2 separate regions of the Homo sapiens genome follow, and region 1 is linked to region 2. A link means that fine-mapping ties the variant in region 2 to the expression of a gene that starts in the linked region. Tissue or cell type: aorta. Region 2 holds a variant in brackets; the other region holds the start of a gene. All regions are shown on one strand. Distances are from middle to middle.

What was found. PIP is the estimated chance that this variant, and not a neighbour inherited with it, causes the effect.
Region 1: it holds the start of TMEM208, and the variant in region 2 is fine-mapped to the expression of TMEM208 in aorta (GTEx, PIP 0.93).

The regions. Positions count from the first base shown.
Region 1 is chr16:67,223,951-67,232,004 of GRCh38, forward strand. TMEM208 (transmembrane protein 208) reads left to right here and starts at 3,180. Exons shown (of 6, transcript NM_014187.4): 1 at 3,180-3,274; 2 at 3,886-3,981; 3 at 4,405-4,464; 4 at 4,545-4,681; 5 at 4,847-4,931; 6 at 5,026-5,328. The coding sequence starts at 3,269. The coding sequence ends at 5,163. It overlaps FHOD1 (formin homology 2 domain containing 1), which reads right to left. Exons shown (of 22, transcript NM_013241.3): 15 at 7,687-7,869; 16 at 7,480-7,599; 17 at 7,238-7,399; 18 at 6,651-6,841; 19 at 6,364-6,556; 20 at 6,116-6,278; 21 at 5,843-6,040; 22 at 5,439-5,768. The coding sequence ends at 5,686. It also overlaps the pseudogene FBXL9P. RefSeq lists enhancers at 2,983-3,332, 7,406-7,907, 7,908-8,054.
Region 2 is chr16:67,050,301-67,058,354 of GRCh38, forward strand. The region is part of intron 3 of CBFB (core-binding factor subunit beta); the gene reads left to right. Among named protein-coding and RNA genes, the nearest start is that of CBFB, 25 kb to the left of the region's middle. The variant T/C (reference allele first, on the strand shown) is at 3,204.

The DNA.
Region 1 (8,054 bases), 170 kb after region 2:
GGGGACTGTTAGAGGTGGGAGGTCTTTGGAACCCACTCCAGCTGACAGCACCATGGGTCTGAGGGCACCAGAGCCCTGGCTTCTACTTTATCTTGGATGTGAAGCTTCACGAAGCATTCACTTCCCCGCTCCAGGCTTCAGGTATCTTTCCTGTAAACAAACCTTTCCTGAGCTGGGTGCAGGCTTGCACTGACTGATAAGAATCAAACTTCCTGCCTAGCTGGGTAGAAAAAGCCTGGGCATTGAGGCCAGATAAACCTAGTTCAAATCTCTACTCTGCCAACTGACCTCTCGAACTTTGTTTTCCTTATCTGTGAAATTGCAATTGTAGTGAGATTTAAATGGATTATTGTGAGAATTAAAGAACACAGCCAAGTGTCTTGCATAGGACCTAGAGCACAGCAGGCCAGGTGTGCTCACTCTGGTCCTCAGGAAGTCATGCTTGGTCCTCCTGCCCTCATGGCTCAGGCTCTGGGACCCTGCTGTTTTTCTGTCTTCTTCACTGCCACCTTGCCCTCTCCACTGGTTGTTAAGATGCGCTCCCAGCAAGACCTAGCCTGGGAGGCTCAGGCCCTTCCCCCCACCTAGGGGGTGGTGAGGTTAGAGGTCCTAAATGGGACTGGGGAAGGGGTTACCAGTGAGGCCTAGAATGATTTGATATTAACTCTTCTTTTCTTCTGGAATCTTCCTCCCTGCATCCCAATTGTCTCGTTTTTGGATTCTTCTGTGGCTCCCAGGGCTCAGACCTGGGTCTTTTGGTTTTCTGTTTACCAACACAGGAATAACCAACAATTCAATATTCCCATATTGTCCTATTATCCAAGTGCTAGTCCATATTGCCAACTGTCCATGCAAATGTTTAGCCATCACTTTAATCTCAACCAAAACTCATGTTCTACCCTCAGCCCAAAACAGCCTCTCCTCCCAAATTCCCCTTTCAATGCCAACAGTGCATCTACCTGATAACACTTTCAACTATTCAAACCATTCTGTCCCTTCCTCCCAGATACAGGTGTAATGCACAGGCTTTAGGCCAGGCTAACCTAAACTCATTCAAATTCCAGCTCCACTACTTCCACATATACTGATGTGTGACCTTAAACAAGGTACTTGACCTCTGGGAGTTTCAGTTTCCATATCTATAAAATAGGGATACTTTAAAAAAATCTAGATCATAGCCTCATGGGGATTAAATTTTACATATATATAGTGTGTGTGTGACAACTAGATGTTCCATAAATGGTTGCTGGATTGCTGTTACTAAAATTTCTACCTCTGCAACTTCCCCACCTCAGTAGCTCAGATTTCTACCACCCCAAACCTGGATTCCTTCCACAATCTCCCACCTGAACTCTTTGCCTCCAAGTTCATCCTTGCTAATACATTATGCACACTGTCACAAGGTTAATTTTTCCTATAAAACAGTTTTCAGTTTCAGCTCACCCCTGCTGTAAAACTTCAGGGTTCACAGTACTCTCAGGACAGTCTCCACTCCTGGATCAGCACTGCCAGGCCTCTGTGCCTGATTGGACTCGCTGGTCCCCAAACTTCCCCAGTCCAGTCTCCCCATTGCCCTACGCACACAGCATGTCTATTTCCTTTTGCCTATGCGGGCCTTTTCCCTGGGATCCCCTTCTTGAAGCTTAACTTCACCAACCCATTGTGATCTCTCCTTCCTTTCTCAGATGCCAAGCACGCAGGCACAGTGCTCAGCCAGTGCTTACTGGATTAAATTAAGGTTGGACAGTCCAGTCCTCTACCTCTATTTTCACCAAGAGTATGCTCAGGGAAGGGGTCGGGGAAATAAAGCAGTCATTACTGAGAGGACAATGACTGGCAGAATAGACTTCTGGGCCAGGAAGGGAGGCATAGGGAAGACAGTATTGATGGGGACTGGGACTGACCAAGTCCCAATCCCTCCAGGGAGGCACGGAAGCCTGTTTGAGCTGAGTTAAGACAGTGGCCATCCTGTCTTCTGGGGCTAAGCAGCCAGCCCAAGAGCAAAGGGAGAGGGGAACAAACCTGTCATCCCTTGGGGTGAGTCGGGAAGGGACACAATTCATTGACCTAAGAAGAGGGTGGCCTTTCTAGAGGGACAAGAGGAGGCAGTGATGAGGATGGAGTGACCATCCCATGAGTCCCATCTCAAGGGGGCTACTGGAGATAATGATTGGTCACTCATGGGGTCTATGGGGATGGAAATAGATAGCCCCTAAAGCTAAGGGGGAAAGGGATAGCACTGCAAGCTCAATAGGGGTGGGAACAGGCCTATTTTTGCTAAGGACAGGAGCATCATTCCAGGACCGATGGGAAAGGGTGGCCTGTTTCCCATGGGCAGAGAGAGGGGGCTGCCAACCCTCAGGACAAAAGAGATGGAGAAGCCATTCCAACAGGCCACTGAAGACAAAACCTGTTATCTCCCTGGCAGATGGGGCAGAGTGGTCTTGCCCCTGGCTAAGGGGAAGGAGCAAACATCCCACGGAGTGAAAGAGGTAAGGGCGGCCATCACTAGGGGCCTAGGAATGGGGAACAGGCCTATCCTTGTTAAAGGAACTCAGAGATCATTGCAGTTGATGGGGAGGGAGCAGTCTGTTTCCCACTGCCAGGGAGAAGGGGCGGCCGTCTCTGTAGGAAATGGAGAGATCATCCCAAGGGACCAATGGGGATAAGATCAGTTACCCTTCGGGACGATGAGATGGAGCGGACATCTTCCAGAACTGAGCGGGGAGGAGACAGCCACTTCAAGGGAAGGGGATGGGCAGAGGGCCTGTTCTCGCGGAGATGACAGGGCAGCTATCTTCTGGGGCCGATAGGGAAGGGGAGGACGGTCCCCCAAGCTAAAGGGACAGAGTGGCCCAAAGGAGGAACCGTTACCCAGAGCTAGAAGGTCCCGGGATCGGGAGGGCGGGTCGTTTCCGCCAGGCTGGAGGGGCCGGGCTAGCTATCTGACAGCCCCTCCCCAAAGCTCAGGACCGCGAGGGCGGGGCCTGTCCAGAGCTAGGCCTGAGGGCGGCTTCCTCTCACCTCCAGGGGCAGCGACTCCGCCATCGCATCCCTGCCGCCTCCGCCCCCACTGCGCAAGGCTTTCTGGGAAATGTAGTCTCGCCTCTTTGGGGCGGGGCTTGGGAAGGAAGTGAGACCTATTTCCGTCGCAAAAGCTGACGACTTCGGTCTGCGCCGGAAGTGCATGAGCTGCCGATGTGGTGCTTAGTGATTGCGGTTTCGGTCGCTCTCCCGTGTTTCCCGGGCTGGGTATTTGCCTCGCACCATGGCGGTAAGGAGGATGGATAGGGCGGGGTCCGCACCAGCAAAGCTCTCCAGGGGCTGTGAGAGTGAAAACTGAGAAAGAACATTAAGGGATATGGGGTGGGCCAGAGCGGGGCGCCATCCCTGGCCAGACCGTGCTAGAGCTGGGCTGGGGGGATGGCGGCGCAGGACCATACCAGGACTAGTGCCAGAGCGGGGTGGGCATCAGTACCAGGGCAGGCCAGAGATCTAAGTGACCTGAGGTGGGGGTTAACCCAGATCGGGACTACGCCAGCGGAGGCCTGAGAGAGGCACCATTCAACTCCGCTCAGGAGTACCCTTGGAAGAGTCGTTAGCCTAAAGCCAGACTACCACGGGATCCAGAGGCGGTATTAGCTTAGGATTGAATTGTTCCAGGGCGAGCAAGAGGCGATTGATCCTAGCTGCGGGTGCTGGAGAGATGGCGTCAGCCCTAGGCAGAATGGACTGGAGGATGGGTGGACATCCCAGGGATTTTGCTAGGTTTCTGCACTACGGGGACCTGGCTGAGTTGCGGATGGAGCTCTATAGCTCACCAGGCTGGTGGGGAGAATGAGGAGGACCGTGGCCTCCTGACGGCATCTCATCATTCCTCTGCAGCCCAAGGGCAAAGTGGGCACGAGAGGGAAGAAGCAGATATTTGAAGAGAACAGAGAGACTCTGAAGTTCTACCTGCGGATCATACTGGGGGCCAATGTAAGTGCCTACCTCCTTGCTTCTATGCCCACTTATAGTCAGTTCCCTAGTCCTCAGCCCTGCTTGGTGACGAGGAGTGGTACCCGAAAAAGCTCTAGAAGAGAGCTCCAGTCAAAAAGAAATGAGAGATCTGGGCACAGAGAAAGTGCTAACTAGTAAAACACAAAGAAAATGAAGGCGTGAGTCGTAGCTGAATTTGAGAGCTCTTCCTACCTCCAAGTACACAAAGGCTTCTTTCCTGGGCTGAGTTGGGTGTCAGAGGAGAGTGGGTATTTGGGATTCAGGGAGCAGGGCCCTTTCTTCAACCCTGTAAGAACAACCTTGCTCCTCCCACAGCCTGGCCTAATTCTTGGTCAGAGTTGAGGGAGACCCATGGTTTGGAGGTAACTTCTGACCCCAACCTGATCCTGTGATTGCTTGCAGGCCATTTACTGCCTTGTGACGTTGGTCTTCTTTTACTCATCTGCCTCATTTTGGGCCTGGGTAAGTATCTCCATCCTGGGAGGTGGATGAGTGCGTAGGGTCAGTGGCTGGCCTTTGATACCCTCATTCTTGCTCTGCAGTTGGCCCTGGGCTTTAGTCTGGCAGTGTATGGGGCCAGCTACCACTCTATGAGCTCGATGGCACGAGCAGCGTTCTCTGAGGATGGGGCCCTGATGGATGGTGGCATGGACCTCAACATGGAGCAGGGCATGGCAGAGTGAGTGTCCCCCACCGCCAGCCCAGGTGAGCGGCCCCAGGGCTGGGGCCCAGATAGCCCAAGAAGCACAGCTACTTGTAACTTGAAAAGGGTGGAAGGGAGTTGCAACTTGAAAAGGGTGGAAGGGCCCATATGCTGTCTTTCCAGCTTTATTTCTATCCACAGGCACCTTAAGGATGTGATCCTACTGACAGCCATCGTGCAGGTGCTCAGCTGCTTCTCTCTCTATGTCTGGTCCTTCTGGCTTCTGGTATGTGGGCTGGGGGCGCTCCCAAGAAGGGGCATCTAACCCTCCCCATCTTTTATTCCCTGCATCTTGCTTCAAGTTACCGTTTCTCTTGTAGGCTCCAGGCCGGGCCCTTTACCTCCTGTGGGTGAATGTGCTGGGCCCCTGGTTCACTGCAGACAGTGGCACCCCAGCACCAGAGCACAATGAGAAACGGCAGCGCCGACAGGAGCGGCGGCAGATGAAGCGGTTATAGCCATTGACATTGTGGCCACAGGCCACTGGCCCTGGGTGGCTCTGTCAGGGTGCACAGCCCCTCATGCCTGGAGCAATGAGGGTCTAGTCCAGGGGCCAAAAGCAGTCTGAGGTATTGGGTATACTTATACTCTATAGGGTCGTTGAATAAATGGCTTAGAATGTGGCTGATGGCTGTGTGGGTGATGAGGGATGAGGCAGGAAAAGCTGGTCCTATGGGATTTCCCTCCTGCTACAAACCCAGCCTGGTGGGGACCCTGAAAGAAGAGAAACCTGTTGGATTAGCTAAGAAAATTTTATTTTGCTCCGTGCGTTCAAGGAGCTCACACACATGCACATGCATATGCATGCACACACACACATACACACACACTCACATGCATACACACACGGCTAATACTGCTCAAGGCATGGCTCCTGGGCACAGAGTTCTGGGGCCAGAATTCTGCTCTGGGCCCTCCTCACTCTGTCATCTCCTGCACTGCAGTCCAGGGTCCAGATAGATTTCCGGGATACAGCACCTTCACACCTCCAGGCCAGGACCCTTGCTTAGTCCCAGTGCCTGCACCAGGTCATCTCCGAGCCCACTCTTCAACGTCCTTCTCACTGCAGGGACAGAGCAGGGTTGGAGGGGGTTGATGGGGTTCAGGTGGGCAGTGGGATTGTGGGGGGTTACTTACAAGACTTGCGGTTGCCGCGGGAACGCTTGCGTTCCCTAGCAGCTAAGGCACGAGGACTGCTCTTGGTCACTGACTGCACCAGAAGGTCCATGATCTCATCTGATGTATCACTGGGTAAACTGGAGCCTGGGGGTTCTTCTGGGGATGCAGTGGAGGGCCCCACTGTGGGCATGATTGGGGAGCTGCTCTGGACCATGCCTGAGGAAGGCCAGATAGCAAAGTCAGGCCAAGGTGGCACTGGAGCCCATTCCCCACAGCTGCTATGGGCCTCACCTCTGCTGCGGCGATTGTGTGTGGTGTCCTCAGGCCTGCTGGTCAGCAGACTCTTCATACTAGCATGACTGTCAGCATCTCCCCGGCCTGGCCCGCTGCTCACTGCTACTGGGACAGAGGGGTTGCTGGGGGCTTCCCCAGCCACACCTGAGAACTTCTCTGTCTGGAGAAAGAAGAAGGGTGAGCTGGGAGGAGCGAAGGAAACCAAGGAGGTGGCAGTCAAGACTAAGACCTGGAAGGGCACCCACCTCGGTGATCATGCGTCCCCGGGTCTTGTTGCGCTCACGGTATGTGGCCTGCTTCTGCTGCTGCTGTAGCACTCGTTCCCGGCAAGTCCGATACTCAAGCGCAAATTCCCGCAGCGTGTGGCAGAACTGCATGATGCGCACTTCACGGGCCGCCTGCGGGGTGTAGCCCAGGTAGAGCAGGAAGGCATGGAACCTAGGCAGGTCAGAGTAGGGAGGGACAGTAAGTCCTGCTTATTGTCTGAGGGAGGGTGGTGGCCGTCCTGCCTCTCTTGGGTCCATGCCCCTACCTATTGCAGACACGGCGGTGCACTATCCTTAGCATGGCAACACGGCGGGCACACTGGTCCAGGAAGTGGGTGAGGCGGGCACGCAGGGCTGGGGCCAGCTCATGCTTGGCCAAGCTCCGCAGGCTCTCCTCGGCTGCCCGGCTCCGGCGCTCCAGCTGCCCCAGGTTCTCAGTCAGCTGTTCAAAGTCCACCTGAGAAAGCAAGGGGGTGCACATACTGTCCCCCCACACCCTGTAGACAAGACATGGCCCGAGGCTGCTTCTGGGCCAGAGTGGCCAGCTTGGGCCCTAAGGACACAGACATCCAAATCTCATAGACTAGTGCAAGAGACACAAGTCCATCTGATGTGAATGGGGAGCAGAAGGTTTACTGGGGGAAGTGGCAGTTAAACAGACCCAAAGACTGAGTAGGTGTGGCCAGGCCAATAGAGGAAAGAGCATTTCTGGCAGAGGGCATAGCTCACACCCAGGTGGCTGGAGCAAGCCCTGGCACAGCAGCCCAAATGGGGAGAAGGGGGAGGAGCCAGGCCCAGGAAGCAGCGCTCCTCATGCCTTGTCCGGCCTTGGTTGATTCTGGCAGGTGCTAACCTTGGCACAGCGGGTCAGGGCAGGGATTTCTGAATAGAGGTCAGAGGACTCAGGCCGGGTCTGGAGCACTAGGGAGCAGAGATGGTGTAGCAGTGACTGTCGACGCACCGTGTCCTTCACCTCTGACACCTTCTCCAGGTAGCTCAGCTCAAAGCCGCTGCTCTGAAAGGACCCTTTCTGAGCCTGGGCCTGGTTGGCTCCAGAACCCTGACTCCCCCTAGTCCCCATGTACTCTCACTCACCTGGGAGCCATTGAGGAAGTTGCCCACCGCTAGGAGGGTAGCCAGGATGCAGCGGAAGGTGGCATTCTGTACCAGCTGTTCCATACCCACTTTCAGGTCAAACAGTGGCTCAGCAATTTCCTGGTATGGGAGACCAGGGACTCTCAGACTACATGGTCATGATGCTTACCTGTCCCTACTGACTGTCCCACTCCAAGACCCAGGTACCCGCTCCATGCTGTCATAGTCCAGCTTGAAGGCCCAGAGTTGTAGACGAGCAGCGAGGCCGCCAATGGAGGCAAGAGTCATCAGGAAGTTCTCGGCTGGGCCCAGGGGTATGTCAGGGTTGGCCAGCTGGGCTTCCTCAATCTTCTGCCGCTCTTCCTCCGTGGGCATCATGGTCAGTAGCTTCTGAGGATGTAGCCAGAGCCTGACATGGCCCCCTCAATGCAGGCCTGAGGCCTGAGGCATTGGTCTTGACCCCTCAGTCATCTAGGGGAGGCCCCAGTGTCTGGGGACTGCCCTGCAGAAATGCCAAGCCCATGCCCACCACCAGAGGGACAGGAAATGCCCACCTACCAAAGGAGAAGGCCAGA
Region 2 (8,054 bases):
TATATAGCATTATGTTCTAAGACACACACATATATATGTATATATAACGTTCTAAGACTTTCAGGGATTCCTGTACTGTTGATAGTACCAAATCCTATATATGTGCTGTTTTTTTCCTATACAGATATACATATATACGTATGATAAAGTTTAGTTTATAAATTAGGCACAGTAAGAGATTAACAACCTTAACTAATAATAAAGTAGAACGTGGCCGGGCAAGGCTGCTCACAGCTATAATCTCAATGTTTTGGGAGACCAAGGCAGGAGGATTGCTTGAGTCCAGGAGTTTGAGACCAGCCTGGGCAATATGAGACCCTGTCTGTACAAAAAAGTTTAAAAATTAGCCGGGTATGGTGGCATGCACCTGTAGTCCTAGCTATTTGGGAGGCTGAGGTGGGAGAATTGCTTGAACCTAGGAGTTTGAGCCTACAGTGAACTATGATTGAGCCATGACACTCTAGCCTGGGCAATAGAGCAAAACCCTGTCTCCAAAAAACTAAAAGTTTAAAAAAATAAAGTGGAACACTAATAACAATATACAGTAATCAATGTAAAATTAAGGTTATTTGAACATAAGCACTGCCATACTGCAGCAGGATGGCCACTAAGTAACTAATGGACACATTCCTTATAAAACATGGATGTGCTGGACAAAGAGATGATTCACCTCTCTGGAGAGAAGGAGTGCAATTTAAAACTTATGAATTGTTTATTTCTGGAATTTTTCATATAATATTTTTGGACCGTGATTGACTGTGAGTAACTGAAATCATGGAGAGCAAAACTGTGGCTAAGCGGGGACTACTGTACTTGATGCATTTTCCTTTTAGGAATTCTTTTAAGTTATTTTTCATTTGTTAGATGTGTCTTACAAAGAATAGATAAAAACATGTACATTTTAGGAATAATAATAAAAGGAACATAGGTATAGTAGGACTGATGTTCCGTATGGTAGCTATTATACAATCCACATGTGGCTGTTGAACACTTATAATGTCGCTAGTGTGAATTCACATGTGATGTGTGAAAAAACACAAACCAGATTTTGAAACCTGGTATGAAAAACAAAAATAATGTAATGTATTTATATGGATCCAAAATGTAATATATATATGGATCCAAATATATGTATATATATCCAAAATATATATCCAAAATAATGTAATATATTGCTATATATATATATGTACACACACACATACATATATGGATCCAGTTTTATACTCATTATTTTTTCTGGGTTTGTTTCACAGTGTGTTTTTGTATGTATTTCTATCAACTTAACTAAATTAGTTTTCTAAGTGTCATCATGAATAGCATAACCTGCCACGTTTATGTAAAACGTGAGAAATGTCTAAATGACCAACATATATAGGTAAAATGTTTAAGCTGAGAGCCTTATTTCAAGTCTACGTTAAATGTATTATATGATTTTGGTGTTTTTTTTGTGTTTTTTTTTTTCTGAGTTGGAGTCTCGCTCTGTTGCCCAGGCTGGAGCGCAGTGGCGTGATCTTGGCTCACTGCAACCTCCACCTTCTGGGTTTTAAGCTATTCTCCTGCCTCAGCCTCCTGAGTAGCTGGGATTACAGGCATATATATATATGTGTATACACACACACACACACACACACACACACACACGCATACATATATATAGCAATAGGAATATATATATATATTTTGAGACAAGTTCTGGCTCTGTCACCCAAGCTGGAGTGCCGTGACACGATCTCAGCTCTCTGCAACCTCTGTCTCCCAGGCTCAAGCCCTCCTCCCATGTTGCCCAGGCTGGTCTCGAACTTGTGAGCTCAAGTGATCCACCTGCCTCAGCCTCCCGCAGTGCTGGGATTGCAGGCGTGAGCCACTGTGCCTGACCCAAGATATTGCTTGCTTGATACCATGTTGAAAATTTTAGATGTTTTGAGTTAAGTAACATTATTAAAATTAATTTCACCTCTTTTTACTTTTTAAAAAATACCTACTAGGCCGAGTGCAGTTACTCATGCCTGTAATCCTAGCACTTTGGGAGGCCAAGGTGGGAAGATTGCATGAAGCCAGGAGTCCGAGACCAGCCTGGTCAACATAGTGAGACCCCATCCTTAAAAAATAAAAACATTTTTTAAGTGACTGGGCATAGTGGGGTGTGCCTGTAGTCCTAGCTCCTGGAGAGGCTGAAGTGGGAGGTTTGCTTGAGCCCAGGAGTTCAAGGCTGTAGTGAGCTGTGATGGTGCCACTGCAATCCAACCTGGGTGAAGGAGGGAGACCCTGTCTCTTAAAAAAAAAAAAATGCCTGCTAGACAATTTACAGTTACATATGTGGCTTGCATTTGTGATTCACATTATATATTTCTGTTGAACAGTACTGCCTGCACAGTTGGCCAGGTATGGTGGCTCACACCTATAATTGCAGCACTTTCAGAGGTTAAGGAGGGAGGATTACTTGAGCCCAGGAGTTACAGACCAGCCCGGGCAACAAAGTGAGACCCCATCTCTACAAAAAAATAAAATAATTAGCCAGGTGTCGTGATACAGGCCTGTAGTCCCAGCTACTTGGGAGGCTGAGGCAGGAGGATCCCTTGAGTCCTGGAAATCAAGGTTGCAGTGAGCTGTGTTCATACCACAGAGCAAGATGCTATCTCAAAATGAGTCCTGGAAATCAAGGCTGCAGTGAGCCGTGTTCATACCACAGAGCAAGATGCTATCTCAAAAAAAAAAAAAAGAAAAAAAGAGAAAGAAAACTTTACAGTTCTTTTCCTCAACCCGTCTCCCCCCACAAAATAATCACTATCCTGATTGATGTATTTGTTCCCTTACTTTTCTTTGTCATTTTATTTCCTGTGCATATATCTCTAAATAACGCATTGTTTAGTTTTTAAAAAAAATGAAACTAGGAAGCACACACTTCAGGGCAGTGTAAACAACGGACTCTAATGTCACTTTCTCTCTTTTTTTTTTTTTTTTTTTTTGGTGAGAGGAGTCTTGCTCTGTCACCCAGGTTGGAGTGCAGTGGTGCGATCTCGGCTCACTGCAAGCTCCGCCTCCTGGGTTCACGCCATTCTCCTGCCTCAGCCTCCCGAGTAGCTGGGACTACGGGCCCCCTCACCACCACACCTGGCTAATTTTTTGTATTTTTAGTAGAGATGGGGTGTCACTGTGTTAGCCAGGCTGGTCTCGATCTCCTGACCTTGTGATCCACACTC[T/C]TCGGCCTCCCAAAGTGCTGGGATTACAAGCGTGAGCCACCGCACCCAGCCTTCTAATGTCACTTTCAGATGCAGCTCCTAGAAGATGAGCTGAACAGAATCTTAGGGTCAAGTCCGGATTCAGCTTCCCTGTGAATTTTTAGAGCCTCCCTGGGGAAGCTTGTGAGCACAGTCATGAGTGGATTATGGGAAACCTAGGGCTCACACTGGAGTTAGGGCATCTGGCACACTGAAACCATTGCTCACCGTGTGCCGGAGATGTGGAGGAATATGGTCAGAGGGAGTTAGCTGCTCTGGTATTTTCTGCTTCTAGGCTCACCATGACCTACCTTCTTTTATCCTTTTTTTTTTTTTTTAATTTCTTTTGTCAAAATTGATGTCTCATTCCAGAGCTACCTTCTTTTCACAGGAGTGAGTCAAAGCACATCACCTTTGTCAGCTCAAATGAGTGTCCTTAGCTGGTCCCAGCAGTGGGGAAGGCTTATATATGAGCATTTTGCCCTCAGGATCTTGGTGATGACCATCCTCAGAATGTCCATCTCTTCAATCTAGACTGATTGTCCTCTATATCCAGCGCACTGCTTTCATACTGATTTCTGTGTTCATCCTCTGCTGTGAGGGGCTTTTTTGTTTTTTTCTTTTTGTTTCTTTTTCAGTTTTTCTGTCTTCCTGTTTCTTGGTTTACGGTCTCTTTGTGGATAACAGAGTTGTTGCATATTTGAAGTGTCTTTATTCTACGATACTTTATTGTAAGTTTGTCTTGTTCTAGAGTTTGAGGTTAGAGATTATTTTCGTTAAGAAGGCCTTGTTTCATTGTCTTGGTTTAAATGTTGCAGTTGAAAATCTCTGAAGTCATTGTGTTTCCTGATCTGTTTGTGACCAATTTCCCCGTCTTTGGAAGTTTGTAAAATCTTTGTCTCCATGTTTTGGTATTTATCTATGATGTAACCTAGTGTCGGTCCACAGTCATTCCTTGTGCAGGGTACTTGCCAGCCCTTTACAGTATGGCAGCTGTGTCCTTCGTAAGGAAATTTTCTTATATTAATTGATGACTTCCTTTCTTATATTTTTTCTATTCTTTTCTGGAACATCTACTATTTGGATGTTAGACCCACAGGAATGATCCTGTTACCTTATTTTCTTACTGTCTCTTTTGTCTTTTTGGTCTACCTTCCAGAAGATTTCCTCTACTTTATCTTCAGAGTCTTATATTGGGTCTTAATTTCTACTATATTTCAACAGAGCTTTTTGTTTGTTTGTTTGTTTTGAGACGGAGTCTCGCTCTGTCGCCCAGGCTGGAGTGCAGTGGTGCGATCTCGCCTCACTGCAAGCTCCGCCTCCCGGGTTCACGCCATTCTCCTGCCTCAGCCTCCCACGCGTAGCTGGGACTAGAGGTGCCCACCACCACGCCTGGCTAATTTTTTGTATTTTTTTTTTTTTTTTTAGTAGAGACAGGGTTTCACCAAGAGCTCTTTTTTGTGTGTGCTACAAATGTTCCTTTTTTGTTAGTATCCTCTTCTTGTTTATCGGGTACATTTTATCTGAGAATCTAGCTGGTAGATTTTTACTGCTTTACATCACTTCAGAGGAAATGGCTGCAACTGAAGGGTGAAAGTCAGAATTTATCTTGGCTCAGCTTTTCATGTAAGAAAAGAAAAATACAGTGAAACCAAATTAAAATAATTATGTGGAGAGCATATTGGTGGCAAGTTAATACATTTTTATGACTTTTTGGAGGGTCTAATTTATTCTTAACAGAAGTCTGAGTTTAGTATCCATTTATTGAATATGTATTTATATGTGTATACGCACACACACACAGTGTATTAAATCTATTGAATTCCAGACACTTTCTTTTTTTTTTTTTTTTTTTTTTTTTTTGAGACGGAGTCTCGCTCTGTCGCCCAGGCTGGAGTGCAGTGGCGCATCTCGGCTCACTGCAAGCTCCGCCTCCCGGGTTCACGCCATTCTCCTGCCTCAGCCTACTGAGTAGGTGCCCGCCACCACGCCCAGCTGATTTTTTTGTATTTTTTTAGTAGAGATGGGGTTTCACTGTGTTAGCCATGATGGTCTCGATCTCCTGACCTCGTGATCCATCTGCCTCGGCCTCCCAAAGTGCTGGGATTACAGGTGTGAGCCACCACACCCGGCCTCCAGACACTTTCTTTAGTTTTTCATTTTATGATTTCTCTTTTGGACTGTAAGATGATCGGTAAATTACATTAAATCACTATAGAAGAAGCTATTTTTACACATACATGCAACCCAGTTATGATTCAGAGGCAAACAAGATTGAATGACTGTAGAGATTATCTGACAGTTGAGCAGCTGACTGTCCATTTATGAACAGGGAGGTGCATGTGGCTAAAGGAGGATGAGTCAGAACCAAGTATCTTCTAAAGGAATCTGTTGAATAGACTACAGAAATGATTACAGCAAGCGACAGGGTACATACTTCTTCAGTGGAATATCTTGTTTTCTTGGGTGCCTATGGCCATCCCAGTATTACTGTTGGATGATTCATTGGTCTGTGGGTAGGAACAACTCTTCATTGTCAGGGAAAAAACAGCATGTCTCCTTTGGAAAGAAATTACTGTCAGTGTTGCTGTGATGTTCTCTATGTTTTATAAGTTTTCATTTTGTGCTTTTTGTTGGTGATTTCACTGTTTAAAATGGCCCACAAGCATAATGTTAAAGTGCAGTCTAGTATTCCTTAAATGCAAGAAGGCCGTAATGTGCCTTATGGAGAAAATGTACATGTTAGATAAGTTCCCTTCAGTCATGAGTTACAGTGCTGTCAGCTGTGAGTTCAGTGTTAGTGAATCAGCAATATATATTGAAGATGATGTCTGAACAGAAGCATACATAAAACAAAATTATGTATTGATCAGTTGAGGAAGATGTTAGGCTAGAAGGAACCTACGTCTGCATTTCCCCTAGGAACAGTGGTTTAGTGTTCACTGATACAGTGTTCATGTAGATTTGATAGAGTATAACAATGGCAAGTCGTGTGTGTGTGTATGTGTGTAGGCTTAATGGTTTTCTTTACCCAGTATTTACTATGTTTTTTTCCATTAACAGCATAATGTAAACATCCCGTGTAACATGCTTGTTTTTGGTGGTGAGGGATGCTTGTTTTTGGTGGTCAAGGATCAGCAGACCTGCCTGGATTCTAGCAGGCTTTTTTTTTTTTTTTTAAGACAGAGTCTCGCTCTGTCACCAGGTTGGAGTGCAGTGGCATGATCTCAGCTCACTGCAACTTCGGCTTCCCGGGTTCAAGCAGGTCTCCTGCCTCAGCCTCCTGAGTAGCTGGGACTACAGGTGCGTGCCACCACACCCAGCTAATTTTTGTATTTTTAGTAGAGACGGGGTTTCACCATGTTGGCCAGGATGGTCTTGATCTCTTGACCTCGTGATCCACCCTTCTTGGCCTCCCAAAGTGCAGGGATTACAGGCGTGAGCCACCATGCCCGGCCTCTAGCAGGCTTTTTATTTTTGAGATGGAGTCTCACTCTTTCGCCCAGGCTGGGGTGCAGTGGTGCAATCTTGGCTCACTGCAACCTTTGCCTCCTGGATTCAAGTGATTCTCCTTTCTCAGCCTCCCGAGTTGGTGGGATTACAGGCACCTGCCACCATGCCCGGCTAATTTTTGTATTTTTAGTAGAGACGGGGTTTCACCATGTTGGCCAGGCTGGTCTCGAACTTCTGACCTCAGATGATTTGCCTGCCTTGGCCTCCCAAAGCACATGGATTACAGGCGTGAGCCACCGCGCCTATCCTCTAGCAGGCTTTTTAAAGGTCAGTGTTCAATTTGGAAGTTTATTTATTCAGCTCATTATCATTGGGCGTCTAGGTTATTTCTGATCATTTACCATTATTTACAAAAATCCCCTGAGAATGAACATTCTTGTAATAGAATTTTTTTTTACATCTTTGATTAAGTTTTAGGCTAATTCACAGACGTGGCATTGCTGTGTCAAAGGAAAATGCACCCTTATTCCCCCAAATTGCCTTCCCAAAATCATTAGCCAGTTTACCCTCCCCCTGACAATGTAATATAACCTGTTTTCCCTCCTGATACATGTTATTGAAATGTTTTTCAATTTATTTTAATATTTGTTTTAAAATAGTTATCTTGTTCTGATTTAATATGTTAGTGAACTTTTTTTCATAATTTTTGGTTAGTTATGTTAATTTTGTTCTAAACTATTCTTTTCCACATGGTTAGCCAGTTTTTTCAACTCCACTGGTTAAATAAAATATCCTTTTACTATTGATTTTAAGTGTTGCCTTTTTCATATGTTAAGTATTTATATACTTGGTTTCATTTTTGAATTTTTTGGTTTTGTTCCATTAAGTTGTAGCTGACTGCCACAGCACTCCTATATATTTATTGGTTGTGTTGTATGTTTTAGTATCTGAAAGGGCAAAAAATTACTCTTTCTCTAATTTCTCATGGATGGCCTGATTGTTTTATGTGAACTGTAGACTTCCCAAATTCTAAAAAACATTATTTTGATATTTCAGATATTTCATTGGAATTTTGTTGAAGATTACTTTGGGATAAATTGTCATTTGTAGTCTTTCCAGTCATGAATATGACATCACACTAGTTATTCAAATCGGTTGTTGTTGTTGTTGTTGTTGTTGTTGTTGAGATGGAGTCTTGCTCTGTCGCCCAGGCTGGAGTGCAGTGGCACCATCTTGGCTCACTGCAACTTCTGCCTCCTGGGTTCAAGTGATTCTCCTGCCTCAGCCTCCTGAGTAGCTGGGATTACAGTTGTGCGCCACCATGTCCAACTAATTTTTGTATTTTTAGTATTGATTGGATTTCACCATGTTGGCCAGGTT